Linked DNA regions of Homo sapiens: regions 1, 2, 4 and 5 are each linked to region 3. Evidence: fine-mapped expression QTL. A gene starts in region 3. Each other region holds a variant in brackets. All regions are shown on one strand. Distances are from middle to middle.

Evidence for each region.
Region 1: its variant is fine-mapped to the expression of SLC4A8 in whole blood (INTERVAL, PIP above 0.99).
Region 2: its variant is fine-mapped to the expression of SLC4A8 in whole blood (TOPMed, PIP above 0.99).
Region 4: its variant is fine-mapped to the expression of SLC4A8 in spinal cord (GTEx, PIP 0.91).
Region 5: its variant is fine-mapped to the expression of SLC4A8 in whole blood (TOPMed, PIP above 0.99).

The regions. Positions count from the first base shown.
Region 1 is chr12:51,370,597-51,376,534 of GRCh38, reverse strand. The region is part of intron 4 of GALNT6 (polypeptide N-acetylgalactosaminyltransferase 6); the gene reads left to right. Among named protein-coding and RNA genes, the nearest start is that of GALNT6, 18 kb to the left of the region's middle. RefSeq lists an enhancer at 4,655-5,221. The variant C/T (reference allele first, on the strand shown) is at 3,132.
Region 2 is chr12:51,397,398-51,403,335 of GRCh38, reverse strand. It overlaps a transcript of SLC4A8 not described here. Among named protein-coding and RNA genes, the nearest start is that of GALNT6, 9.0 kb to the right of the region's middle. The variant GGT/T (reference allele first, on the strand shown) is at 2,744.
Region 3 is chr12:51,421,003-51,426,642 of GRCh38, reverse strand. SLC4A8 (solute carrier family 4 member 8) reads right to left here and starts at 1,812. Exons shown (of 25, transcript NM_001039960.3): 1 at 1,608-1,812. The coding sequence starts at 1,655. SLC4A8-AS1 (SLC4A8 antisense RNA 1) reads left to right here and starts at 1,315. Exons shown (of 3, transcript XR_001749147.2): 1 at 1,315-1,403; 2 at 2,044-2,156; 3 at 4,466-4,744. RefSeq lists an enhancer at 1,194-1,253 and silencers at 1,364-1,573, 1,844-2,053.
Region 4 is chr12:51,358,373-51,364,310 of GRCh38, reverse strand. GALNT6 (polypeptide N-acetylgalactosaminyltransferase 6) reads left to right here. Exons shown (of 12, transcript NM_007210.4): 6 at 1-190; 7 at 3,473-3,590; 8 at 4,979-5,179. Among named protein-coding and RNA genes, the nearest start is that of CELA1, 15 kb to the right of the region's middle. The variant T/C (reference allele first, on the strand shown) is at 3,466.
Region 5 is chr12:51,528,721-51,534,658 of GRCh38, reverse strand. No RefSeq gene overlaps it. Among named protein-coding and RNA genes, the nearest start is that of SCN8A, 60 kb to the left of the region's middle. RefSeq lists an enhancer at 2,398-2,457. The variant A/G (reference allele first, on the strand shown) is at 3,138.

The DNA of each region.
Region 1 (5,938 bases), 50 kb after region 3:
CAGCCTCCCTAGTAGCTGGGATTACAGGCATGTGCCACCACACCCAGCTAATTTTGTATTTTTAATAGAGATGGGGTTTCTCCATGTTGGTCAGGTTGGTCTCGAACTCCCGAACTCAGGTAATCTGCCTGCTCCAGCCTCCCAAAGTGCTGGGATTACAGGCATGAGCCACCGTGCCCGGCCAGAAGCCTCTTACAACACTAGCCACAGTGCTGTGGCAGTGATGCACCTGTAACAGGTGTGAAAGGGCATGGACTGCAGAGTCCAACACCTAGGAATTCAAATCCCAGCTCTGACCCTTCCTAGCTCTGTGACCTTGGACAAGCATTTGGCCTCCCTGAACCTGTTTCCTCTTCAAAAAATGGGGGCAGACCGGGCACAGTGGCTCAAGCCTGTAATTTCAGCACTTTGGGAGGCTGAAGCGGACAGATCACTTGAGGTCAGGAGTTTGAGACCAGCCTGGCCAACATGGTGAAACCCCATCTCTACCCAAAATACAAAAAATAATTAGCCAGGTGTGGTGGTGCGCGCTTGTAGTCCCAGCTGCTCGGGAGGCTGAGGCACAAGAATCACCTGAACCCGGGAGGCGTAGGCTGCAGTGAGCCAAGATGGCACCACTGCTTTTCTGCCTGAGAGACAGAGTGAGACTCCTTCTCAAAAAAACAAAACAAAAAAAAGGACTGGGCGTGGTGGCTCACGCCTGTAATCCTAGCACTCTGGGAGGCCGAGGCAGGCAGATTGCTTAAGGTCAGGAGTTCGAGACAGCCCGGCCAATATGGTGAAACCCCGTATCTACTAAAAATACAAAAATTAGCCAGGCGTGGCAGAGCATGCCTGTAGTCCCAACTACTCGGGAGGCTGAGGCAGGAGAATCGCTTGAACCCAGGAGGCGGAGGTTGCAGTGAGCCGAGATCATGTTACTGCACTCCAGCCTGGGCTACAGAGTGAGACTCCATCTCAAAAAAAAAAAAAAAGAGCAGTTGAGTCCCTTACATGGTGGGTGAGGGATATGAGATAGGTCATAAATGAGATTCATGTGCCACAGAGTGGCTGGCATCAAGTAAGAGTGTCACAAGCATGCATTCCATTTTATTCATGGTACGAGAACAATGCACCATGGAGTATGTAGCCAGGAGGTGCCATTTCTGCCTGGCGTGGCTAGGGCTGGTCTGCAGTGGAAGCCAGATTGGAGCTGGGCCTTAAAGGATGAGTGTCTAAGAGAGAAGAGTGGATGAAGGGCATTCCCACAAGAGAATGGCATAAGCACAGTCCTAAAGACATGAATGTGTTTGTTAAAGAGATCTGGTGTGGCTGAAGCTTAGGTTTGTTTAGGAAATGAGACTTAAAAGATGTTAAATTGGCCAGGGACAGTGGCTCACCCCTGTAATCCCAGCACTTAGGGAGGCCGAGGCGGGTGGATCACTTGAGCCCAGGAGTTCAAGACAGCCTGGGCAACATGTCAAGACCTTTTTTCTATAAAAATTACAAAAATTAGCCTGGCATGACGGCATGTGCCTGTAGTCCCAGCTACTCGGGAGGCTGAGCCAGAGCATGACCCTGTCTCAAAAAAAAAAATGTTGAATTGACATTCATGTCATGCTAAAAGCATTTATTTAGAAAGTAAGAAGGAGTCGTTGAAAGTGTTTCATCTGTACTGTGACTTCATTTCAGAAGGATGGCAGCTTTGGAGGAGGATAATCGGCAGGAAGAGAGGCAGAGGACTCACAGTCTGGAGAGGAAGTTCTTACACTCACTTGAGAGTAGGAGATGATGGGGCCTGAACTAGGAAAGGCTGTGGGACTGAGACACCTTTAGGCTGAGAGTCTCCACAAGCTTAGCCCTCCTCGTAGGAGGCATGTGGTGTCTGGGGCTCTCCCAGATTGACCTCCTGTGCTCAAACTCCCAATAGTGAGGGCAGGAACTGACTCCACACTTCCCAGTGTAAGCGCTGGGGCCACTCCAGTAGAGCTGCTTCCTGTCCTTGTCCTCCCCCAGCCTCCCTCCTTCCTCTAGGTTAGGGGTGATGCTGAAAAGAGGACTAGGGCTGTGGAAGGAAGGGCTGAGTGTGAGCCCTGTTGAGTTCATTTCTTCAGGAAGCTCACATCTTCCCAGGGAAGACAGATACTTGGCAGCACTTATAAAGCAAGGCCAGACCAGCCTGGGCAACATATCAAAATCCCATCTCTACAAAAATAAAAAATTAGCAGGCATGGTGGTATTTGCCTGTGGTCCCAGCTACTTGGGAGGCTGAGGTGGGAGGATCACTTGAGCCCAGGAAATTGAGGCTGCAGTGAGCTGTGATTGCACCATTGCACTCCAGCATGGATGGCAGAGTGAGACCTTGTCTCTAAAAAAGATACAAATAAAGTAAAATAGGCCAAGCACAGTAGCTCATGCCTGTAATCCCAGAACTTTGGGAGGCTGTGGCAGGAGGATTGCTTGAGGCCAGGAGTTCAAGACCAGCCTGGGCAATGTCACAAGACCCCATCTCTATAAAAAATAGAAAAGTTAGCTGGGCACGGTGGCATGTGCCTGTGGTTCCAGCTACTTGGAGGGCTGAGGTGGAAGGATTGCTTGAGCCCAGCAGGCTGAGACTGCAGTGAGCCTTGACTGCACCATTGTACTCCAGCCTAGGCAATAGAGTGAGACCCAGTCTCTAAAAAAAAATAATAAATAAATCAAGGCAAGCAAGTATCAGGGATGCAATGACAGGGTCTGGTGGACAAGGAATGTATAGATTAGGCTTCTGGAAAGGGAAGGGTGAAGAGTTTGGCAGAGATGGGAGGAGCTTGGCAGTGATCTCTAGGGAATCTTTGTAGCAATGGAAAGGTTGTATGGAATGGAAGCAAGCATATTAGCGGTCCTTCCTCTCAAACTGGGTTCTTTCGTTATCTTTCTCCTCCTAACCCTATGCTACCCATCCTTCGGAAGCTCTTTCACCTGAATCTCTTGTACTGGAGTGTATTAGTCCATTCTCATTTATAAAGGAGAGAGGTTTAATTAACTCACAGTTCTGCAGGGCTGGGGAGACCTCAGGAAACCTATAATCATGGCAGAAGGGGAAGCAAACATGTCCTTCCTCATGAGGTGTCAGGAGAGAGAAGAATGAGAGCCGAGCAAAAGGGGAAGCC[C/T]CTCATAAAACCATCAGATTTCGTGAGAACTTACTATCACAAGGATAGCATGGTGGAAACTGCCCCATGATTCAATTATCTCCCACTGGGTCCCTTCCATCACATGTGGGGATTATGGGACCTACGACTCAAGATGAGATTTGGGTGAGGAAACAGCCAAACCATATCATTTCACCACTAACCCCTCCCAAATCTCATGTCCTCACATTTCAAAACACAATCATGCCTTTCCAACAGTCCCCCCAAAGTCTTAGCTAATTCCAGCATTAACCCAAAAGTCCAAGTCCAAACTCCCATCTGAGACAAGGCAAGTCCCTTCCCCTATGAGCCTGTAAAATCAAAAGCAAGTTAAGTCACTTCCTAGATACAATGGAGGTATAGGCATTGCGTAAATACAACCATTTGAAATGGGAGAAATTAGCCAAAACAGAGGGGCTACAGGCCCCATGCAAATCGAAAATCCAACAGGGCATTCATTAAGCCTTAAAGTTCCAAAGTGATTTCCTTTGACTTCGTGTCTCACATCCAGGTCACGCTGATGCAAGAGGTGGGCTCCCGTAGCCTTGGACGTGGGGGTTCTAAACTGTTAACTTTTCACCCTAAACTTTGTGACTCTGTGAGCTGCAAGTGCCCAGGTAGGCAACTCCTCTGACTAGCTAGACAAGTGACATAATGCCAGGCTGGCATAGGCAGCATCTAACAGGCAGAGTAGCCTGTGTTCAGTAGGGCAGAGTTGGCAGTAGCCCCAGTATCCCCTCCAGAGCACCCGCCCCTAGCAGGCCACCATATACACGTTCACCTTCTCTCTGTCTGTCCTGGACTTGTTGCCCTGGACTCTCTTCTAAAGCCAATTCTCTCCAAAGGCCAATTCCAGCATCTCTAAATCATCTGCATGGTCAGGACGCACTGGCTCACACCTGTAATCCCAGCACTTTGGGAGGCTGAGGTGGGAAAATCACTTGAGCCCAGGAGTTCAAGACCATCCTGGGCAACATAGTAAGACTCTGTCTTTACAAAAAAATAAAAAATTAGCTGGGCATGGTGGTATGTGCCTGTAGTCCCAGCTACTCGAGAGGCTGAGGTGGGAGGGTCACCTGAACTCAGGAGGTCAAGGTTGCAGTGAGCCCTGATCATGCCACTGTATTCAGCATGGGTGACAGAGCGACACCCTGTGTCAAAAACAAAAACAAAACAATCACCTGCCTGAAAAACCTAAGCTAGTCATTCTTATTTTTCTGGGTCCTGGCATCCTTTCAGAATCTGTTAAAATCCCTAGAATAGTGCACCACTGCCCACAATAATATGCAAAACCCACATTTTTGCATTTAATTCCAGGGAATTTGTGGACCCTATGATAAACAACCCTACCCAGAGGGCTTTCAGACGCTAGAGATACTTTAAGCAACATTCAGTTCAGTGAGGAAAGGAGGAAAAAACCCTCAGATCCATGGTCAGAAATCTCTGCCGTCCACAGTGGGATAAAATTTCCCACACGTTTGACTGTTTGATCAGATTAACCAGCTCTCATTACACACACACACAAACAGGACTGTGTCTCTGCCGAAATACAATGTCCCTGCTCTCTGACCTCCACTCCAGGCACCCAGTAGTAGCCCTATGAGAGTGAGTCTAAGGGCATTTGATACCATGGGGGAGGAGACCGCGTGCTGAGCTGGGGAGCTTTTTCTTCCCCACCTCTGAGTCAGAACCAGGGCACAGACCTCATTCCTGAGTGGCTAGGTCAGCAGCCAGGGTTCCCTCCCTGTCTGGCACACTCCACCAGCTTAACTAAATTAGAGGGAAAAAAAAGAAGAATGCAGGGCAATGGGTTAGTGAGTGAGTAATTAGGGAGCTCTTTTCACCGGAGTAGCCAGGAAAGACTACTCTTAGTACTCCCTGCAAAGGGAGCAGCCAACACAGAGGCCTGAGGCTTGACTTGTTAATGAGGCAGAAAGAAGACAGTGTGGCTTAAACAAAGTAAGCCAGGGAGCAGAAAGAGTGCTGGTGGAGTGGGTGTAAGGAGCCGGGCCCATGGCTCATGCCTGTTAATTCCAGCACTTTGAGAGGCCGAGGCAAGAGAACCCTTGAGGTCAGGAGTTTGGGACCAGCCTGGCCAACATGGAGAAACCCCGTCTCTACTAAAAATACAAAAATTAGCCAGGCATGGTGGTGGGCACCTGTAATCCCAGCTACTCAGGAGGCTGAGGCAGAAGAATTGCTTGAACCCCGGAGGCGGAGGTTGCAGTGAGCTGAGATCACACCATTGCACTCCAGCCTGGGCGACAAGAGCAAAACTCCATCTCAAATAATAATAATAATAATAATAATAATAATAATAATAATAATAATTTTTTAAAAGGCTAGCGGGACCAAATTGTGAGACCTCCGTAAGCCACCGACAGTGTTTGGATTTTTCATGTGTGTATGTAGTAAAAGGCACGACATAAAACGTATCATCTTCACGGTTTCAGTCCACAGTTTATTGATTTTAAATGCATTCACATTATTGTGCAACCATCTCCGGAACTTTTTTTTTTCCCTTTTTTAATAAGATGGGGTCTCACCATGTTGACCAGGCTGGTCTGGAACTCCCAGCCTCCCAAAGTGCTAGGATTACATGCGTGAGTCACCACAACCAGCCAATAACTTATTTTTTGTCATCCCAAACTGAAATTCTGTACCTATTAAACATGAATTCTCCACGCTGTCCTCCCCACAACCCCTGGCAACCACCCTTCTACTTTCTGTCTCTATGAATTTGATTATCATAAGTGGAATCATACAGTATTTGTCCTTTTGTGACTGGC
Region 2 (5,938 bases), 23 kb after region 3:
AGTAACGCTTTCTGGTGGAGTAACAGGCACATATCAAGAAACTCACATGTTGGCTCCACTGATCCTTCTGTTCAGGCTTGAGTGGCCCCAACTCAGTAAAGTTTAGGTATCCTGGGTCTCCCCGGCGGTAGCGAGGAGTGCTTCTGAGTTTGTTGCTGTTGTTCTTGTTGAACATAGAGCATTTATTATGTTCTGAGCACTGTTCTGAGCAGTTTATACCTATTACCTAATCTAAATTTCACAACAGACTCTATATAATTGTCCTTTAAAAAAAAATGAAAACAGGCTAAACAACTTACCCATGACTACAGAACTGCCAGCTAACTGGGGGACTTCATGCAGTCATTCTCAGAGTCTCTCCTTTCACTGGGGGGGATTCTATCAGGGACCCCCAGTCCCATACTGAGACATGCCTCTCCCATAGCATCTGGCCATGGGATAACGCTGTGAAGAACAGGATAAGTGACAAGCACCCCCAGAAGACACCCGTCTTTGCCCATCACTGGCAAGGAGAGTGGAATCACCATATGGTGCTTAGATTAATTGCAAAGGGACAAATAAATGCCTAGGAGTCAACTACCCTGACCACTTTAGCTTTCATTTTTTATTTTTTGAGATGGAGTTTCACTCTTGTACCCCAGGTTGGAGTGCAATGGCGCGGTCTCGGCTCACTGCAACCTCCACCTCCCAGGTTCAAAAGATTCTCCTGCCTCAGTCTCCCAGGTAGCTGGGATTACAGGTACACGCCACTACACCCAGGTAATTTTTGCATTTTTAGTAGGGACGGGGTTTCACCATGTTGGCCAGGCTGGTCCCAAACTCCCGACCTCAGGTGATCCACGCACCTTAGCCTCCCAAAGTGTTGAGATTACAGGCGTGAGCTACTGTGCCAGGCCTCACTTTAGCCTTTAAATTTAGCACCTGTGAGTTTATCGGGGTAGCAAATGCCAGGACAGGATAACACCATAGAGAGCCCATCAGCACAGCAGGGCTTCTTCTCCCTCTATTCTTGAAGCATTCTAGCTTTGCACCCCTTAAGTCACTCAATTGTTTGGCAAACCTGGAATGGTTTCCCTTCAACAACAGCTGAATCCCAGGATATTCCAAGTCTTGATGATTAGGGAGTGAAGCCAATATCTTTTCAAAGTCTGAGCTCACCCCCTGTTGTAACCATATATGCCTGTCAAATCTTACTCTAGTCTTGCATAACACACATATATCAAGGCATCACTTCAGGTCTGTTTCTCCTGGTGGTTAAGATACGAAGGGGCCAGACACTGTGGCTCATGCCTGTAATTCCAGCACTTTGGGAGGCTGAAGGAGGAGGATCACTTAAGCTCAGATGTTTGAGACCAGCCTGGGCAACATAGGGAGATCCCATCTCTACAAAAAAAAATAGAAAAATTAGCTGGGTGTGGTTGCACATGTCTGTACTCCCAGCTACTCAGGGGGCTGAGGTGGGAGGATTGCTTGAGCCTGGGGAGGCTGAGGCTGCATTGAAGAGTTGATATGGGAGTGGGGCAGGGAAGTGCTGGGAAGGGAAGGGGGTGGTCCCTGGCTAGGGCTGCACCCCCAGGCCTGTGCCCAGGGACCTAGGTGAGGACAGGCATTTCTGTTTTCATGCCCAAACGTTGCATTTCCCAAGACCACCGTGGCCCACCACAGTCCTATCCTGTGCCTATAAAAACCCCGAGACCCGAGCGGGCAGAGACACAAGCGGCTGGACGTCAAGAGGAACAGATCAGTAGAGGAACGCACAGGCAGCTGGACATCGAGAGGAATACACTGGTGGAAGAGCATACCAACATGCAGTGGCAGATGCCAGCACGCTGGCACGCCATCGGCCCACGGAAAGACATAGAGTTTGCCTGGGGCAGTCAGAGGAGAGCCCAGCTGCTGAGCGGCCCAACTCAGGGGAAAACCACCTTTCCACTCCATCTCCCTTCTGGCTCCCCTATCTACTGAGAGCTACTTAAAATCAATAAAACCTTGCACTCATTCTCCAAGCCCACATATGATCTGATTTTTCCGGTACACCAAGGCAAGAACCCGGGATACAGAAAACCTCGCGATAAGGCAGAGGGTCTAATCCAGCTGGTTAGCACAGCCGCCTACAGACGGCAAAATTAAAAGAGCACACGGTAGCACACGCCCACTGGGGCTAGGAGCTGTAAACACTAACTGGCGACAGAGGAACGCTCCGTCTCAAACAAACAAAAGAAAAACATGTTGGCACTGTCCAAAGGTAGACGCTGCCGTGGGATCTGAACCCCACAACCTGCCCATCTGTATGTTCCATAGAGATTTCAGCAGCCGGGCCCTAAAGAAGCGAGCCACTCCCCTTGTTGCACTCCCTGTGAGGGGGACAAGGGAACCTTTCCCGTTTCACCGTGACGGTGCCACTGCACTCCAGCCTGGGCAACAGAGTGAGACCCTGTTTAAAAATATATATATATGTATATACATATATATGTTTATATACGTATATAAACATATATGTTTATATACGTATATAAACATATATGTTTATATATGTGTGTGTGTGTGTGTATGTATGTATATATATATATATATATATATATATATATATATATATATATATATATATAAAGGAGTTCATTCACACTCCTCTCAAGTACCGTTGGAAAAAAGTTATGTCATATAAACAAACTAGACAATCTATACCCCAGTCACCTTTTCCATTGAGTGGTTAAAGGATTCACAGACCCCTGAGGTGTTCTAG[GGT/T]ATCCCATCAAACTGATATAACTCTATGGGCAACTGAGAGTGTGTTTTGTGTTTTTTGTTTTTTCCTCACTAACCATGGTTTTTTTTCTTAGTACCACTCCTCCCCAAACAACAGCATCAAATACCACCAACTCCCTGCCTGGCAGTGGGTCCCAACTCTGAGAAAACCTATACACATCTATACACATTACAATTGTACGTGACTATTTTGCCCACTACCACAGTGGGGGATTTAAAGGTCTTCGATGATAGTAGCTCTTCAAAGAGTTTCTGTAAATTCCTGATTTCAAACAATAAAATCTATTTTAATCTGCCCTCAGCAAACATAACTTACATTCCATTCATGGAGAAAGAAAAGGTTATTCTACTTTAGGGCTTCCTTTGCAGTCTTTCCTCCTGATCTCTGGGTGGTTAGAAATCCTTGAGATCAAAGGCCTCTGGATTTATCTGCAGGTCCAGGTGGAACAAACCCAGGAGAGGGCCAAGGGGCAGTGCTTGGGTCTGCATGGCCTCTGCCCACTCCACCCACCACACCCAGGAGGAGGGACCACTTCGTACCTCTGTGCTACCTTTGGACAGTGCCAACATGGTTTTTTTTTTTTTTTTTTTTGAGACGAAGTGTTGCTCTGTCACCAGACTGGAGTGCAGTCACGCAATCTCAGCTCACTGCAACCTCCACCTCCCAGGTTCAAGCGATTCCCCTGCCTCAGCCTACCAAGTAGCTGGGATTATAGGAACGCATCACCATGCCCAGCTAATTTTTTGTATTTTAGTAGAGACAGCGTTTCACCATGTTGGCCAAGATGATCTCAATCTCCTGACCTCGTGATCTGCCTGCCTCAGCCTTCCAAAGAGCTGGGATTACAAGCGTGAGCCACCACGCCTGGCCCAACATGTTTTAAAGGCTAGATTTAAGATCAGACAGCTGGAAGAGTCAGGATTCAACCCAGGTCTCACTCCAAAACTGTTTTCACTTTGCCAAAATTGAATGCTGCTGATATGTCCGTCTACCTAGAAAATCAAGAGAATCCTCTGGAAATCTATCAGAGCCACAAAGAGAGCTCAGTAAGAGGACTACTTTTAAAATAACTTTAACCATTATGGGCAATGTAATAAAAAAAAAATTAAGAAGCTGCTATTTAAAGTACTTGCCAAAATCAGGGTGACTCCTCTGAACTATGTTTCTAGAAAGAATCAAAAGAAATCAGTAACAGTGGCTGCCTTTGGGGAGGAAAACTAGGTGACTGCAGATGGGAGAAGGAGGGAGACTCCCTCTTCACTATACTTTTGAGCTTTAGATTTTTTTTGCCATATGCACATATCACCTATTGAAAATAAGTAAATAAGATTCCACGGGAATTAATAAACAATGAGGCAAACATTTTAGGATATTAAGAGGACATTAAACATCTGGACTCATCTACCAATGAGTTATTCTATCACCTCTCCTTTACTTACAATCCAAAGTAATATTAATATCAGATAGACTTCAATCCTAATGAAATTTGTGATTTTTCAAATGTCTAAGAAAACAGAAACTTCAGCCAGGTGTGGTGGCTCACGCCTGTAATCCCAGCACTTTGGGAGGCCAAGGAAGGTGGATCACCTGAGATCAGGAGTTCAAGACCAGCCTGACCAACATGGTGAAACCCCATCTCTACAAAAATACAAAAATTAGTTGGGCGTGGTTGCGCACGCCTGTAATCCTAGCTACTCCAGAGGCTGAGACAGGAGAATCGCTTGAACCCGGGAGGCAGAGATTGCAATGAGCCGAGATCAGGCCACTGCACTCCAGACTGCGCGACAGAGCGAGACTCTCTCTCAAAAAAAGAAAAAAAGAAAGAAACAGAAACTTCTCTTTTTTTAGGGGAAGATAACAGGTTTTGCTTTTAGCTGGAGGATTGTTTGCTCTGCGGAGTTAGTTTATAGCCCCTTTTATTACCTCTCTTTGGGCAAAACAACTGTCAGATTGAAATCCAATTAAGATTTCAGAAGGTTAAATGTGCATATGTTTCTTCTTTTAAAGAGAGATATTAAATAAGAAATCATAATTTTGAGCAGAAAAAGCTCTCACAGCAAAATCTTACAAGCATTTGGATGTTTTATTCATTGCAGTTGTGAAATTTCTCTACTGTGAAAGGACAGATCTTGGGCACTTGATTGCTTTTAAGGAGATGATCTTGTGTGATTTAAGTAGAAAGTCCATAGTTACAGTTTGACAACCCCAAGAGAGGAACACTTATTAATTGTATGATATTAGGAGGCTTCGGTTATACAAAAGAAAGACTGATCAAGAGTCTCCTAAAATAGGTAATATAAAATGCCAAGGAATCATTTTAACAAGAGCTGTAAAGATTAGGAGAGAGAACACTAGAAAACTTTTCTGAGGATCATAAACTAGAAACTTGAATAAATGGAGAGACAGACTTGCAAAAAGTAGTGGCTAAGGGCTCAGACTGCAGTTACAGGGAACTGCTGTGCTTATAAAATTCTCACTTGTAAAAATAAGGATACTCGAGCAGAACGCAGTGGCTCACGGATTTAATCCTAGCACTTTGGGAGGCTGAGGTGGGTGGATCACTTGAGCTCAGGAGTTTGAGACCTCCTGGGTCTCACCTCAGCCTCCTCCCGAGTAGCTGGGACTATAGGCACACACAACCATGCCTGGCTAATTTTTGTACTTTTTATAGAGACAGGGGTCTCACTATGTTGCCCAGGCTGGTCTCAAACTCCTGGACACAAGCAATCCTCCCGTCTTAGCCTCCCAAAGTGCTAGGATTACAGGCATTATCCAACACTGCTAAGTTATAACACCATCAATTTAAGATACATACCAATTTCAGATATGTTAAAGATTTTTAAAAATGCACCTTAGAATTGATGAAATTTATATGTACATATAAATCATATATGCATAGAAAAAGAGCAGACTATATCATACCAAAATAGCAACATTGGTTATCTCTAGGTAACATAATTATGGATAACTTGTCTTCTTTTTTTGTGATTTTCTGTGCATCTGAAATTTTGCACATTGAAAATGTGATATTTGGATCATTAGGAAAAATAATATATTCCCCATCCCACCTGACTCTTTCAACCCTTCTCCCTGTCTCTTATTCTCCTCTCTGTTCTCTTTATGTTCTTTGTCCACGTCCCAATCCAATGCCATGCTAAGCCAAATTGGAGCTTG
Region 3 (5,640 bases):
TTTTGTGTAGCTGTTCTCTTTGCCTCTCAGGCCCTGTGATCCCCCTCTTCCCTCAGTTAACATTTATTCATCCTTTAGCTCTTTGCCCAGATTTTCTTCCTTAGCAAAATCTTCTCTGAGACCATGTCTGGAACCACTGTTATACACGCTTATGGCACTGCCTATCTTTCTTCAAAGCATTTATCACAGTTTATGATATTTATTTGTGTGATATTTGATTAAAAATAGTACTTCTCCCCTCCCCCACTAAATGATACGCTCCAGGAGGGCAAGAACATTGCCTATTTTTTCTTACCATTGTATCCCAAACAGAGATTGAATACATTTAATAGGCTTTAAGGGGGTTAGATATGCATTTTCCAAAATCTTAGATATTGTTCTTTTCAGACAGAGCAAGGAAAGAAGGATGTATCTTCTATTAATTGTAGCAAACTATTAACCAGGAAGAAGAGGAGAGAGTCAGTGTCTGATACTCATTTTGTTGCAAACTCAGGATATTTTCCCTGCCTCCTCGGGGAAACCATCCCTGAGGTCAACATGGCACTTGTTTCCAAGACGTGTCATCCTTCCTGAGATGGCCCATTACCCTCTTCAGAGCCCTGTACTTCAGACTTGCCTCCTCTTCCAACCCTCTTTCCAAGGCAGAAACCACACCATCTGATTGCACAGGAAACGGGGAGTGAGAATTCAATGGGCTGCCACTCATTCACTGAGTGTCACACAATAAACATTACTCCACAAAGCCCTTTCACAAACAGCACTTCGTCTGATCCTCAAAACAACCCTGTGAAGCATGCAAAGCAGACATAACTATTCCCATTTTAATAGCTGGGGAAACTGAGGTTCAAAGAGGCAAGTGACTTACTCAAGGTCACAAAGTTTGTGTGAGGCAGAGGTAGGATTTCAAACTACAGACTCTAACACTTAGTCCAATGCTTTTCCTTACATTAGCCGCCCCAACAGTTCCAATACCAGTTACTTAACCTTGGTTTTTTAATTCCCTTAAATAAGCACCTGTTCCTGACCCCTCCACACATCCTCAGCCCAGTTTGCAGTCCCTACCCAGAAGTTTTCAGGTGTCTGTTCAATGGGGCAGAGGGAGTCACAAACCGGGTCACCCTATCAGGGATTGGTCCCAGCCTCCAGAGTCTTTTCTGGCTTTTCCTCTGAACCACTGAGGAACCAGAAACCCCCAGAAATAAAAACACAAAGAGAAGACGTGCCCCACCAGAGCAAGGTCCCTGCTACCCTTTCTGCCCACGTTCTGGCAGGACAACGCGAGGCCAGACGCCGGCCCCTTCCAACAGAAAGACGCGAGGAGAACAAGAGGTCGCCGCCCGCCGGCTGTCAGGGCTCCTGGGCGGGCGGCGCAAGGGATGCGGCAGAGATGGGCCAGATCCCAGGTTCGGCCCAAGGTCACTCTCTCGCAGCCCTGGCCTGGTCCCCAACCGCCCGGAGCGCCCCCTGGTGTCCCGGGCTGGCCTCCCCTCGCCCTCAGGGAGCGGCCTGGGAAGCCTGGGCTCGGGGGCAGAAGGAAGGAGGGTGGGCAGAGGATGAGGAGGCTGCGCCCCGGGGAGGAGCGGGAGGCGCGGGAGGCGGGGCCCTACCTGATAGCTGAGGACGCCGTCCGGCTCGTTACTCCCGGCGGCCGGCATGGCGGAGCCGAACTAGGTCTCCCCCACGGGCTCCAAGCCAAGCATCAGCAGCCCGCGCCCTCTGGTCGGGTCTGAGCAGATCACTCGAACGGCGACCCCCACCCCGGAGCCAACGGTCAACCATCAACCGCCGCCGCCTCCATAGCCACCGGCCCGCGAGGCATCCGCCGCAACCAATCAGCGAGAGGCCTGCGCAGCCAATCAGGGCGCGGAGCACGGGAGGACGCTGTCCGGCGGTACCCTGGGCTACCGCGGGGAGGGGGAGGAGCCGGGGAGCCAACCGCTCCCGGGCCCGGTTGCCTTGGAAACCGCCTCCCTCCCTTCAGGGGCCTCTGGGCGTGAAGGTCCTTCCAACTGCTTGCTAGAAAATCTCTGCTTCTATTTGCAGCTGCACCTGACCCTTGAAAACTGGGAAAGTGTCGGTTTTGCCTATTCTGATTTCATTCCTTGGGAGATGATGTTTAAATTCCGGGCAAACATCCTTCGCGATTGCAGGAGGAGGTAATTGCGGATGAGGGGAGAGGGCCTTCTAAAATTAATTGTTTTTCCTTGAGCTAATGGCCAGATTAAAGAGCATTAAATTGAAGAAGGCAGGCAGTGTCAGGCTCCCTCACAGTCTCACTATGACTTAGGTCTTCTTCTTGAGTCTCAAGTCAGAAGCAAAACACACGGACAGGGTCGAGCTAAGGATGACTGTTGAAGCAATTCCACAAAAAGGCTTCGAACTTTTCCAGGAAATGATCTAAGGCAAACTATTATTTAGCAACAGAACTACTGACTTAACACAAGGTTAGAATATCATGAATAATGCATTAAATTTGATTTGGATTTATAAGAAAAGAGAGGCTGGCTAAAATCGAAGCAACCCTCTCTCCTCAAGAAAAAGAAAGGTACCTTTTGGGTTTTTTTTGTTTTTTTTTTGTTGTTTTTTTTGTTTTTTTTTTTTTTTTGGAGACGAAGTTTCACTCTTGTTGCCCAGGCTGGAGTGCAATGGCGTGTTCTTGGATCACTGCAACCTCCGCCTATCCAGTTCAAGCGATTCTCCTGCCTCAGCCTCCTGAGTAGCTGGGATTACAGGTCCCCACCACCACGCCCGGCTGATTTTTTTGTATTTGTAGTAGAGACGGGGTTTCACCATGTTGGCCAGGCTGGTCTGGAACTCCTGACCTCAGGTGATCTGCCCGCCTCAGCCACCCAAGGTGCTGGGATTACAGGCGTGAGCCATGGCACCCGGCCGTGGGGCCTTTTGTTTTATATGCACTATCATACCAGACTTCAGGTAGGTCCAAATTGGGGTCAGGGGAAGAATTGTTGCAAATAATTCTCAGCCCCTAAAGAAGCTACAGTTGGGGAAGGTAGTCTGATACATGTTAAAACTTTCCACCCCTGCTTACCATCCTTTGTGTTGGTCCTGAAATTGGAAACAAGGTTGGGCTTCAGTATCCCTGAAGCAGAATTGTATTTCTGATGTCCTGTATAAGCCTCCTGTCTAGTCTCTGCGTTTTAGTGTTCATTGCCACACACTCCATCAATCTCTTTACTAATCCTGTCATCTTGAATCTGGAATTCACATCCTACCCTCATCCCCATTTTTGTCCATCAAAATCTTAACCATCCTTCAAAGTTAATCTCAAAAGCCACCCTCTTCCAAGAAGCCTTTCTTTATTCTACTGTCCCTGATACCCCTAACAGATGTCATCTCACCCTCCCCAGAATTCTCAAGGCACTTCATACCTTTCTTATAGCAGTTGTCATGCTGTGGTTATTTAAGTACTTTATATGTTGACTTTAGCTTACTAAAATATTATAAGTTCTTTGAAAGCAATGATTATTTTTCTTATGCCCTTCTGTATACTCAACAGAGCCTCAACCAATCCCAGGCACATAGAAAGTACTTAGTAAATATGAATGCTTTTAATTCAATCTAATAAAAAATGTATTGAACACCTACTAATGAACAGGCCCAAGTAACACTGTAGAGGCAGAGAAATCTAAAATATATATCTCCAAGGGAGCTTAACAGGCTTATCAGGGAAACAGGGTATATGTTAATGAGTAATATTATATAAACCATGAAGATTGCAAAAATTCAGAAGAGAAAATGATCTTCAGGAAGGTTTCACAGAGGACATGGATTCGAGCTAAGTCTGAAAACATGGGTAAGATTTAGCTGACCCAAGGTAAGAAGAGCAAGCATCTCAAGTCTTAGGCAAAGACTTAAGAATAATAATGCACATGGCCCATTCAGGGTAGCCACAATTTGGGCCAAAGCAGAAAGTTATTGAGAAGAGCAGTGGGAGGTAATAGTTGTGATAGAGAAAGGCTGTGGGCTGGGCATGGTGGCTCACACTTGTAATCCCAGCACTTTGGGAGGCCAAGACAGATGGATCCCTTGAACCCAACAGTTCAAGACCAACTTGGGCCAACATGTAGAAATTCCATCTCTATTTTTAAAATACAAAAAAATTAGCCAGGCATGGTGGCATGCACCTGCAGTCCCAGCCCCTCAGGAAGCTGAAGTGGGAGGATCACCTGAGCCCAGGAGAGGCTTCAGTATACCACTCCACTCCAGCCGAGGTGACAGAGTGAGACCCTGTCTCAAAAAAATAAAAAATAAATAAAATAAAAGGCTGTGATCAAATTGTGGAGATCTGGCTAATTCATTCAGACTTTATTTTTCTTAAATGATAAAAAGCAGGACGCTGAAGGCTTTAGGGAAAACTTCCACACACCAGAACCTGGGTTTAGTGGTATAAATGCATTGTGTCATTTAATAGTCATAATGTCTCTACTCTTTTTCTATTTCACAGGTAAAAAACTGAGGCTCAGTGAAGTTAAGCAACTTACTCAAGGTCAGGCAGTCATGAAGCTGGGATTCCATCATTCATCTATTAATTCAAAACACTTTTGCTGAGAACCTATGTATCGTGCCCTATGTTAGGTGTTGGGAAAACAGCAATTAAGACAGTGTCCTTGGCCTCATAAGCCTTACAATCAAGTGGGAGAAAGTAAACAAGTCATCAAACAAGATAACCGCTAGTTATAATCACTACTGTTAAGTAAATAAAGAGTTATGTGATCAAGAGTAACTGGCATGGGATAGGGAGAGCTTCTCTGAGGAGGTGGGGAAAGATTCACCTGAGGAGACGAGTCAAGAACAAGCTCTCTGATTCTAGAGTTCTTGACCACTATGTTGTATTGGCCTATAAAAATTGTACCATCTCCAAAATCTGCCCTTAGGGGAGAATGGATTAGAGGGGGAAACCTGAGGCAGGGCGTCAGAAAGACTGACTCTAGCAACGTGGTAATTCAGGAGCCGAGGATGGTGGCCAAAGGAAAGATGTGCCCACATCCCCCACTCCCCTGGAAGGCAAGTCCCAGCCATGGCAGAAGTGGAGTAGGTAGGGTAGGGAAAGGAATTGAGAAGTAGTGGTGATTCCTGGGAGGACTGGTGGATCTGACTTCTCTCCAGTACAAATGTGGAAAAAGTCAGAGCCTCTGGCCCTTGACTCCAGGGTCAAGAGCCCCATCTTCTGGCCTATTGTGCAAATTACAAAAGGAAGTAGGCCACAGAGGCAGCAGCTAAGGCTGCTGCTATCTGGGGCACTGCAGAAGACAGGCTCTATCCTCCCAGGGATGATTTGGTCTCTCCTTCCCAGAAAAAGCTGGTTCACTTGGCTCTAAGCACGAGGCTCCTAACATCTACTGCTCCTTACCCTGGTTGGAAAAGCTCAAACACATGGCTCTCAGCCTGGCTGGAAGACAAGTCCTAGTGGAGCTGGGGGTATTCAGCCAAGGACATCACCTCACACTGATTATTTTTCTAAAGAAATCAGAAAAAAACAGCAGAACAGAATTCAGAGCCTTCTTGAATCTTCAGTCAGCCCAGAAAGAGGCATAAAGTGGACAAGAAAATGGAAAATACATGTGTAGAGGCAGAGACAACACATGCACACACACACACACACATCATACCAATAGGGAG
Region 4 (5,938 bases), 62 kb after region 3:
CTGAGGACAAGACAGTGGTGGTGAGCCCAGACATCGTCACCATCGACCTTAATACTTTTGAGTTCGCCAAGCCCGTCCAGAGGGGCAGAGTCCATAGCCGAGGCAACTTTGACTGGAGCCTGACCTTCGGCTGGGAAACACTTCCTCCACATGAGAAGCAGAGGCGCAAGGATGAAACCTACCCCATCAAGTAAGGACCGCAGCCTGGTGAGCCCCCAACCTGGCCCCAGTCCTACCCAGTTCCAGGAACCTGTGCCATCTCACATCAACATTTGTTAGGTGCTCTATCAAGCACTTGACATATTGTGATTAATCCTCACTCCCTATGAAGCAGGTACAATACTAAGAATACTAAGGCTCATAGTGATAAACACTGACCTAAGATCATGCAGCTAGCAACAGTGGAGCAAGGACACACTTCCCGGACTGTCTGGCCCTAACCGTGGCACTGCTCTTATTCACCATGACAGTTTGCTCTTATTCACCACTTACCATGTGCCAGGCACTGAACTAAGGGCTATACATTCTTTAGTTTATTCCTCCCTACACATAAAAGGAGTGGCCCATGCTTGCAGATGGGGCAAGAGATGTGATGGAGGCCATTGTGGAATAGTCACTGTAATAAGAGGGAGTGGTATGTGCCCCCAGGTGACTGTCTTTGAAAAGACTGAGAATATACTAAAAGAAAACAGACACATTTTCTGCAGCGTGAAGTTTGTAGCAGTTGCCCTGAACTTCTTTGGTGAAGGGCCAGATGATAAATATTTTGGGCTTTGCCAGCCACATATAGTTTGCTGCATATTCTTCATCTTATTTATTTTTTATTTTTTTTACAAACATTAAAAAATGTAAAAATAATTTTTTGCCCCAGAGGCTTCTAAAACCAGGCAGCCAGATTTTGCCCACAGGCTCTTGTGTGCCAGCCCCTGAGCTGCAGGGTAGACAATTGGAAGTCAACCCACAGTTTAATGCCCACTGGGCTCACCTTTCCCTCTTATACTCACCCCATCCTCCCCTCTCCAGGCAGCCTGTTGGTGTTATTGGAGACTGTAAGTTTATTTTAACAGTTGTCTCAGACAAACCAAGTTGAGGAGTGACTTTTAGTGTAGCCTGTGGTTTGGGATTATTTGTGTCATTGTTATCTTAGACTGGCCAGTATACTTAAGGCTCAACTGAATATACATCCAGGACGGAGGGATGCAGAGGTTGGAGATACAGTAGCCAGAGATAAGAGGGAAGGTTTGAAAGGAGGAAAGGATTGGTGCTTCTTCCTCTCCACGTGCCCAGAATCCTAAAAAATGCTGTCCATGCCAGGCACAGTGGCCCACACCTGTAATCCCAGCTAGATGAGAGGCTGAGGTGGATTAGGTGGATTGCTTGAGCTCAGGAGTTTAACAACAGCCTGGGCAGCATAGCAAGACCCCATCTCTTAAAAAAGAAAAAGAAAAAAAAAAAAACCTGCTCAGAGTCCCAGTAGAAAGGAACTCAGGTGAATGCCACAGGGAGAAATCCCACAGATCCTGAACAGCCAGCTGCTCTGTCTCCATTAGAAGGAGAGAGGGAAAGGAAAAGGCAAAAGAGAGAAAAGAAATTGGAACTTTCCACTGACCCAATGTTTGTTTCATAGCTGCCTTTTGTTTGGTGTGCACTGCAACAGATCCCCACCCCCACCCCCATGCCAGTGACCAGGCACACAGCAGCACAGTCAGAAAGAGGGCACCTGGCCCCCACCCATCACTGACGTCGCAGGCTTCAATGTCCAAGGGCCATACAACTGGAAGACAAAGCTCCAGTGTTTGAGGAATGAATGTGCTCCTTGGCCCACATGCCCCGGTAGCATGCATGGCTTGCCGAGGCTCTTCATGTAGCGCCCCCACCCCAGGAGGACTGCTGACAGTCCCCTCCCGGCCTCCCATCTCAAGCCAACCAGAGCCTAAGAGGAGAGGCAGAGGACCTGGGGGATTCTAGGGGTAGGCCAGGACATAAAGGGTGTTTACTAGAGGTTGCCTGTGGTTGTGAATTTACAGTGAAGCTTCCCATGCAGGGTTTGTCCTCATGGCTAATCCATCAGTGACTTCTCGGTCTGGGAGACTTCTCAAAGACAAGACTCAGGGCCTGTGGGGGAGGAAGCAGGTTGGCTTCCAAGTGCTCCTCTGCAGTTCCAGCACTCTCTGAGCCTCTCAGGGTGCTACTTGTGCCGGTTTAAGACCCCTGGGAGAGGCCAGAGCCTCTTCCAAAGTGATAGGAAGCCAGCCTGAGCACGACTGAAATTCCTTCCAGAAAGTGGCTGCAGGAGCCAACTTCAGGTAGACAAGAGCAACCACAGGGTAACACCAGGGTCACATTCCTGGGTAGGCACCTTGATGGATCATGCGAATGAACAGTGATTGGGCCCCAGCTGTGTGTAAGGCACCTAGATAGGTTCTGGGGTTACAGGGGTTCTGTATCTTTCTGCTTGGTTGTACCACATGAAGCTGCCCACTGAGGGCAGCAAAGCCCTAGCCATGCCAGGCTGGCCCAAACAGAAACCAGCAGCTGATGATTGTGCTCCTGCCATGTCTCACCGGCCCCCACCCCAGCATTCCATCTTGCTTATACTTCCCCGGGTCCGCTTCGATACCCTAACGCTTAGCCCAGTCCCTCTTCGAAGCAACCTGGTATCTAAATTCTAGGAATTAGATGTTTTTGTCAATTTATCTTATCTTGAGTCCACACCTCCCTGCCTGTGTCTGAAAGCCAGAATCTTTTTATAACCTTCTAAATGTTCCCTGTAGCCCAAATTGAGCTTGATCTCACCTGACCTTCCACTGTTTCCAGGAGCACCTTTTATCAGCTTTCTCTGTTAAAAGCAACTGGCAACTTCTCCCCAAATCTACAGTTTCTCATGCAGTGTAAATCACCAGGGCTAGGCGCCTACTAAAACTGTGGCTTAATAGTCCCTGAGGGGCAGGGGCCCTGAAACAGAATGGAGTCAGCCCAGCTGACAATATTCATTCATTCATTTATTCATGGTTTGAATCCTGCCTATTTTCAAAAACAATTTCACACAGCTTCTGAAAGTTGAGTATCTCCTAGGCTCCAGGCACTTTGCTGCCAAAAAGTAACTAATGGTAGCTTTAACCTCTGTGACTAGATTGAGCTCTGGGGGAATAGGATCTGTCTTTCTCCGTTCTGTGTGTCCATCATGTAGCACGGGCCCTGGTGGCCAGTGTTACGTGCATCCTAGGTTGAACGAATGAATGAGTGCCTTTTAGAGGATAATTACATATTTCCTTGACCTGGTCCTAGAAGGGGAAGAGGACATAGTAAAAGCTAAATGATGAGTGAGTTAGTGGATGAGGGGCTGCACGTCCTGAGAAAGAGGAAAGGAGGGGGAGGTGGGTTAGGAGGGGAGTCCACAAACAGCTTTCCCCGCCAGGCTCCGCTCCTCCTCTCCCAGAAGATGCACACACTTCTCCCTCTGTC[T/C]CTCCAGATCCCCGACGTTTGCTGGTGGCCTCTTCTCCATCTCCAAGTCCTACTTTGAGCACATCGGTACCTATGATAATCAGATGGAGATCTGGGGAGGGGAGAACGTGGAAATGTCCTTCCGGGTGAGAGTGAAGAGGGCTTTGGGGGGAACCACAACATCCCAGGCGACAGCTTGAGAAACATCTCTCAGGCAGAGGTGGCATCAGGGACATCCCATCTGGAACTGAACTAGAAAGGGTGGCTATTTCCCAGTGTGTCTCTTCCTCTTTTCTGCTCCCCCTGTCCATGGCAGTAGGGCTTGGGCAGTCAGCCTGGACAGCTCAAAACAAACTACTGGGCACAACTTCTCAGAGGCAAGGAATAATAGGGGTAATGAGGACTGGACATCTGGTGACTGGGGACTCTTTTGCGATGTCTGTGGGAAAGGGTTAGGGTGAAGATAGAAACAGGTTAGTATGTTCACAACTAGGGCTAGAAAAAAAAAACAGATGAGTAACCAGTCATCATCCTTTTTCTGGAAAAATCAGGCTCCCCTTCCCAGTTCAAAGGACACATGCCCTGGTAACCTTTGAAGTTTCCCTACCTATGTACAATAAGCCCTTCATAACAGTCAGAGAAGATGGTGGCCCCAACTCTGGTGGACCCCAGAACTCTGAGAGATTCCAGGAATTAGGCAAATCAGGATTAGGTCAGGAAGCAAGGATTGCCTCTCCATGAAACCTACACAAATCTCCATGCCATGGAAAAGTAATTAGTAAGTAGATGAGCTCATTTATGAAGTCACCTCTCACGGTGCCTGATGCATATTAAGCACGTAATTGATGCCTGCTGTTACTATAACGATTATGTATTTCTGTTGCTGCCACACTAAAATGAATAACAACATACTTTCCCACCTAAAACCCAAAAGAAGAAACCAGTGGGAGGGATGTCTTCAGCCAGCCCACCAGCATAGAAAAGGGTCACCTGCCAGTCACCCCAACTCCCAGCGGCCCAATCCTAGGCTCCTCCATGAGCCTCTGACCTCTGTTCACCTTCCTAGGCAGCCAGTGTGCTAAGGGCCCAAGTGACTACCACTAGCCACCTAGCAGCCAACTATCCTTGCTATTAATTAACAGACTGATGCTCTGGTTTTTATCACCTGAGGGAGCTGATAAACTCACATTTCCAGGTCAAAAAGCCAAGTGATCAGAGCTCAGAGTAGGTATACAGGCACAGGTAACAAAAATTAACCAGCAGGCTTTTCCCTAAAGTGGGCCCTGGTAAACACAGGACCCTGCAGTCTCCCTGTGCTTAAGTCAGAGTGAACCAACATCAGAAAGCCTGGGATCGTGTAGTCATGGCCTAGGAAGAAGCCTGGTCGGTATCCTTTTTCCCAGGGAGAGAGAGCAGCATTTGCCCAAGTCCTTGGACCTGGGGTCTGGTGCTCTGGGAATAGAATAGAGCTGCTTATGGGGAGACTGTCTCACCTAGCCCACTGAAGGCCTCATCCTGTCTCCTCTTACATCAGGTGTGGCAGTGTGGGGGCCAGCTGGAGATCATCCCCTGCTCTGTCGTAGGCCATGTGTTCCGGACCAAGAGCCCCCACACCTTCCCCAAGGGCACTAGTGTCATTGCTCGCAATCAAGTGCGCCTGGCAGAGGTCTGGATGGACAGCTACAAGAAGATTTTCTATAGGAGAAATCTGCAGGCAGCAAAGATGGCCCAAGAGGTGAGAGGAAATGGTTCTCGGAGAGGTTTAGATGAAGAGAAGTACGGCCCCCAGACCCTGTTCATGGGCCTAATGGCTGGGACCCACCTCATCTCTACCATCTGGCGCCTCCCTTCACCCTCAGGGACCTGTGAGCTAGAGCCCAGGAGAAGGCCACAAGGCACATAGGTTTCAAAAGCTAGAGAATGTTGTCCCTACGCATAGAGTCTCTGCATCCCTTTGGAGGGGAAGGGAGGGAAAGGAGATTTGGAGGAAAAGCCTCTTACGGAGGCTTTGGAGGCTTTGGAGGAATGGCTCTGAGAGCCTCGGCACTGGGGAGTGGGACATAATTGTCTGGGGAGTCACAGGAGATGGACCGATAAGCAGGGGACTCCAAAGCTAAGGCGGGGTTTTTGGGATTGGATGTGAGGGCTGGGCCAGTATCTTTAACAGGTCCTGAGTGGGAATGAACATGAGAGACAGTAGCCCCAGGCGCTCCATGCTATCTGCACTACTTCAGCCCAGACAGGAAGGTCAAAGACTGGTGGAACTGGCTGGGTGTGGTGGCTCACGCCTGTAATCCCAGCACTTAGGGAGGCCGAGGCGGGCAGATCACCTAAGGTGAGGGGTTTGAGACCAGCCTGGCCAACATGGTGAAACCTCATCTCTACTAAAAATACAAAAATTAATTGGGCGTGGTGGTGCGCGACTGTAGTCCCAGCTACTCAGGAGGCTGAGGCAGGTGAATCGCTTGAACCCAGGAGGGGAAGGTTGCAGTGA
Region 5 (5,938 bases), 110 kb before region 3:
TCAGCGGCATGAAACCAGGACTGTTATCTGTTTGGCTCCCTGCTGTGTCCTACTGCCTGGTGCACAGCAGCCACGAAATAAATATCACTTCACTGTAGAATTCTCCAAGTTTCTAAATACAAGTCAAGAAAACATGACTTGACTAAACCTGGGACTTCCTTCCTTTTCCCTCCTAAGGATGGACAGCCCCGGCTTCCCTGGCTGCTTGCATGACAGCTCTGTTCTCTGCTGCCTGCACCATCCCCCCCCGCCCCCGCCCCGCCACCAGTGTGTGTGCAGCTTTTATGGAATAATCAGCCTCTCTTTGCTTGCGTTTGGCTATTCCTGCAGCCTTCTTGGCAACCTTTTTTTTTTTTTCCAGCAAGAATAAGCGAGGAAAGAAAAGTGGGAGAGGAGGAAGAGGAAGAGGAGGAAGGGGAGGAGAAAGACAAGGCTCTGGTTTTCCCCAGCACCATTTCTCTTGCACTGAAGAATTGTCACTCTTGGCCATCAGGTTTCTACAAGCTCACCCAGTCCATATCCCTGACTTTGACATGCTCTGCCAGTGTCTAAATTATTTCTGCATAAAATGACTTAGGGGCTCTCTTTGACTACATTCAGTAGCTCAGTGTTTTCTGGATGCAAATTGCTCCTACCTCTTAAAGGCTGTACTTTACTCCCCCTTTCGACCATTGTGGAGGGAGAGTTACTGTTAATTTCCTAATAATTATGGGCTCTACAAGGGGGATTCAATTGTTAAGTAGAAAAAAAGAGGAATATAGCAATGTGAGCAACATACACAGAATATTAATGTTTGTTTAAAAGGAGAAGTTGGAGAATATGTATTTAGTTTTTGATTGGAAATACATAAAATGCACAGAAAATATACAGAAGAAATGATAACATTGTTTCCCTCTGGAAAGTTCCTTGAGAGCAGAAAAACTTTATAGTTAGCTATTCTAAGCATTTAATCACCAACTAATTTGCCCATGCAGGTGGACAAGAAGGTAAATTCAAATTGTGTTGAAGAAAAGAAAGCAGTTTGTCTCTGGGTGCTTTGTCTGCTTATGAAAGGTGAGGACTCTGATATCATCTAGGGTGAAACTGTTGTGAAGCAGATGGAGGAAATTGATCTTTGATATTAAAGGCCATTTTAAGAACTTTGTAAGCCCCAGAGACTCCTAGTTTTATTATAGCAAATATATTAAAACACACTCATATCCTATGTTAAATATAATTTGCCCTATAATTTTTTTTTTTTTTTTTGAGATAGGGTCTTGCTCTGTCACCCAGGCTGGAGTGCAGTGGCACCAACACGGCTCACTGCAGCCTCTACCTCCTGGGCTCAAGCGATCCTCCCACCTCAGCCTCCTGAGTAGATGGGACTACAGCTACTCAGGAGGCTGAGTAGAGAAGGTCCCACCATGTTGCCCAGGCTGGTCTTGAATTCCTGAGCTCAAGTGACCCACTACGCCCTGGCCTCCCAAAAGTGTGCTGGGATTATCCACCGTGCCTGACCCTGCCCTGTAAGTTTGAAAGGAATTTTATAATTTTGCTTTGGAAATTATTTGGCGATGAGTAATATTTAATTTATTATTGGCTACGATTACTCAGGAGTCACCATCTCTACCCAGGAATTCTTAAGAAGTGAAAAAAATCTAACCCACAAAATTCTTTTCAAATGGAATAAATATTTATAAATACTAAATTTAACAATTAATGAAATTGACAATGTTATGTTTTACTGATGTCTAATTAAGCATTTATAAATTTTGTTTTACTGGGCTTTTTTTTTTTTTTTTTGGCATTTGGACCCAGTAACTTCTTTTTGGGTCCACAAGATAAAATGGCACTATTGATATGTGTCCCCCACCTGTTCTTCTGGAATCTCTACCCCAGGGTAAATGGGACTTTATTACCCTCCTGCCTCCCTCCAACCCCCCAGCCCCTCCCCAGCTTTATCCAGTCAACTCTCTTCAGAAGTTCCTCATGCTCAACTTTTTCCTCTTTTTTTCTTTACCCTTCTTCCTTTTCTCATCTTTCTTTGGCACCCAAAACATTTCTGATAACACCTCGGCTCTCCGCACTCTGAGCTCTATTAATTTGCTAATGTCCTAAATGTTTAATGACTCACAGTCCAGGCAACTTGGTTATGTCTTTTCATAGTTACATTTTAATTGGGCCTTTTTAGAGATACAACACTTGAATTCAAAAGGCTCTCTTTAATGATGTGAATTTAGGGCTTAGTTGTGGGAGATATTTCTAGGGAGGTGCAAAATCCTTTGGGAGTAAATTCCAGCAACAAAAAAAATCCTCTTCCCCTGGGAGCTCACAGATGAGCTGAGGAGGTAACATGTAATGCATAACCAGGACATAAGGTAGACGGCACCATTAGGGACGCGTAGAGGAAGGGCGTGGGGGCTTACAGCAGAGAGCTTGCTTTCAGCTGCGGGAATCAGAGGAGGTTACCTGGAGGAAGCGACATTTGAGTTGGACCCTAAAGGATGGGTGGGGTTTGGAGCCCTGGTGCTTCTGGCTCACTCCTTCCCTTCTAACCAGCTGCCGTTCATGAGTTCCTCCAGCAGAGGGCAGGCATAGCAAAGACGGGAAGGAGAGTCCGATTCTTCAGCCCAGTCTTGAGTGGGGCTTTGCATGCCCAGAACTGTCTAGACGGCTTTCTGGGTTTACTAAGAAGGGGCGGTAACTGAAACCTGGTGCCACCTGCCCTGGTGCCACCTCTCCATGGACACTAAGGTGCCCTTTCTAGAGCAGTCAGGCCGGGCAGGTTTGGGCAGTCCAGCCTGGGGAAGGGGAGAGGACTGCCTTTCTGGGTTGCCATGGGAGTTTATTCCCCACTCTCCCTAAGGAACTGGGAGCCGAGGTATGGGTTGCTTTGGTGCTTAAAGTATTTCTCTGTCTATGGTCAGATGAGACAATAATTCATGCTCAAGTGGTTTACTAAGGAAATATTCCCAAGAAAATATTATAAGGAAGTGGGGACAGTAGAATAGGGAAAGAGTAAATGCCAGGCAAGTGTCTGATTTGGGGTGAAGTCCCAGCCTCAGCCTGATGCCTGAGGGAGCTCCAGGGGCGTGCCTTGCAGCACAGAGTTTGCCCTCCCTCAGGGCAAAGGAACAGGGCTTTGTACTGCTGCACCC[A/G]TCAATGGCTGACCACGGCTGCCCCAGGGGGACGTCAACTGGCAGCCCCTTCCAGTTCTTGGTGCATCTGGGTGACTTAGCCCCAGGAGCCCGTGCTTTATCGTCTGAAGACAGGTGTTGATAGGAGCCATCGACAGTGAACATACACAGCTGGAAAGGGGATCTGAGGACAGCTGGGTGCGGCTCCGACCGCCTTTGCTACTCTCTCCAAGGCCCCTTCTATTTATCCAGTCTCCCCATGACCAAAGACTTTGTCTTGCAGACAGAACTACCACTGGGGAAACCCAGGAAGATTCCAAGCCCTCTTGTCTTTTCAGAAGAGATCATTTCTGGTCTCTCAGCACCTCTGGTCTTGCTCTGGGGAACCTGTATTTTTATTGCAGGAGTCCTCACCTCTGTCCCCTAATCCCTTCTACCCCAGCTCCTCAAAATGCATCCCTTCAGAGTTCTCCACCCTCAGCTAATTGTCAGTTCGGGCATTGACGTTCCCCATGGATGCATTAATGGCAGAGAGATGCTCTGACAGGCACTGTGTTTTACCCAGCTCTCCCTTCTGTTACCACTCAAGTGGGAGCTCTCCGAGAGCAAGGGCTGTTTCTCATTCCTTGCCCAGGCCTGCCTGATGGAGTGGGTCTCTAAGTGCAGTTCCTGGACCTCCAGCATCAGGCTCACGGCAAGTGCGTTTTATAATCTTAACTTCCCCGCCAGCCCCCATCCCACCGCACACACACAAAAGGGGTCTGGAAATCAGCCTCTTTCACAAACTTCCTAAGTAATTCTGGTGCTCATTAAAGAATGAGAGCCATGGCCCAAGCACTCAAGGGGCAAATGAGTCCTCCAGAGAACTTTCAGGAACCCCCATGGCACACTTTCACCTTTGTCAAGCCACATCTCACCTTCTCAAGGAGCCCCACCCCCGTCCCAGTGCTCCTGATCCCCTGTACCTATTCTACTTCTTCCTACCATAGCATTATCACCTTTTTCATTATGTGTATCGCTTAGTCTCTCACCTTCCCCCATTAGAACATGAGCTCCATGAGGGCAGGGATCTTTGTCTGGCTGACTGCTATGTCCCAGTGCCTGGAATGCAGTATCCACACATGGTTGGTGTTCAAAAACACGTGTTGCATGAATGAATGAAGTAATTGTGTGGAGAGGCATCAGAGTAACTGAAGACAAAGATCATTACAAATTATCCACTTCTAAACTTCTTTGATAACAGACATTGCATTATCTGTGCCCTGAGACCCCCCTCAGATTCAATGACTTACTGGCAGGACTCACAGGACTCCGAAAAGCTGATATACTCACAGTTATGGTTCATTACAGGGAAAGGATACAGATGAACATCAGCAAAGGGACAAAGTAGGTGGCGATGTCCAGGAGAAATCAGGCAATCAGGCTCAACCTTCTAGGTGTCCTCTCCCAGTGGGCCTGACGGGAATGCAGTTAATTCCCCCAAAAACTATGCATGACAACACGTGCAAAATATTACCAACCAGGGATGAGCCTTGTTGTCCAGGGGTTTTATGTGGTGGCAGTACCCACATGACTTATTTTAGCCACTCAGTCTCTAGTTCCCCACGCTACTGAGAGGTCAAACTGTTGGTGCACAGCCCAGGCAGGGCCTTAGGCATACAAAACCAGACATTCACCATAAATCACTTTATTAGCACAAACTGGTCAGACTGATAGTGTGGCCTAAGGCCTGGGGCATAGAAAAAAAGTCAACCAGGCAGGATCTTCCAAGGGCTCAAAGGTCACCTCCCAGGAGCCAGTCAAGGGCCCAGTCCTTTCTTTGGAATGTGCAAGGTTTGAGCAACCCATACCTGCTGCGTTAACCCTTTCCTGCGCAGACACCAGTAAGCAGATTCTCAACATGGCCCCAACTGAGACTGTTCTGTAATTAATCTATGTGGTTGGTATTGGTCTGACTTCTCCCCAGATATTATTGTGCCTAATTAAGTTATACTTGCAGGCTAACTTACCTCAGGGTTGGGTCATATATTCATTTCACAGGGTTAATGAGCACGTACTGTGTGCTAGATATGGTGCTTTATGGGGAATGCAAAAATGGACATGGCAGACATGGTCCGTGTCTCAGGAAGTTTAGTCTAGTCTAGTTACAGGTCAGTTCTTGGACTTTGGCATATGAAGGATTCCTTGGAGATAACAACCCACTCTGAGGGCAAGCAGGAAGAAGAGATGACTGTGGAGTGAAGATGATGAAGGTGCGGGAGAGAAAGCCTCTTCCCTGTCATTAGCTCTGCCCTTTGAACCTTCAGCAAGCAGATCCTGGGAGATTCCTGTGGCTTGTCTGAGGCACTGGAGATTTGCTTGGAGCAAGGCTGCCTTCCAAGATAAAGGGCAGCCAGGAAAAACCTTAATGCTCTATCCATATTTATGTATCAAATACTTACATGGCACCTACTATGTGCCGGATGCCATTCCCAGCATTCTGCAGATATTAGCTCACCACCATGCCAAACCCCTGCCTGTAGCTCCTGGCACATTCCTGATGCTCTGCGGGCTGTGTGTCCTGGGGAGAGCAGCAGATGTCACCATGCCCTCAGAACCTCTCCTGGTTCTCGTGCTTTCTTACTCTCATATGCCCATCCCATCCCAGGCTCATGCCCTCCTTTGCCTTGTGTCCTCAGGAATGCCCTGTCTTTTGTGAGCACACTCCCCTATGTTCTTGAGCTTTCCTGCTAACACTTCTGGAGCTTTGCTTTCACTGAAGCCTGACTTTCCCCAGGATATACTGATGCTCAGCTCAGGTACTCGATGAGCCAGTGACAGAT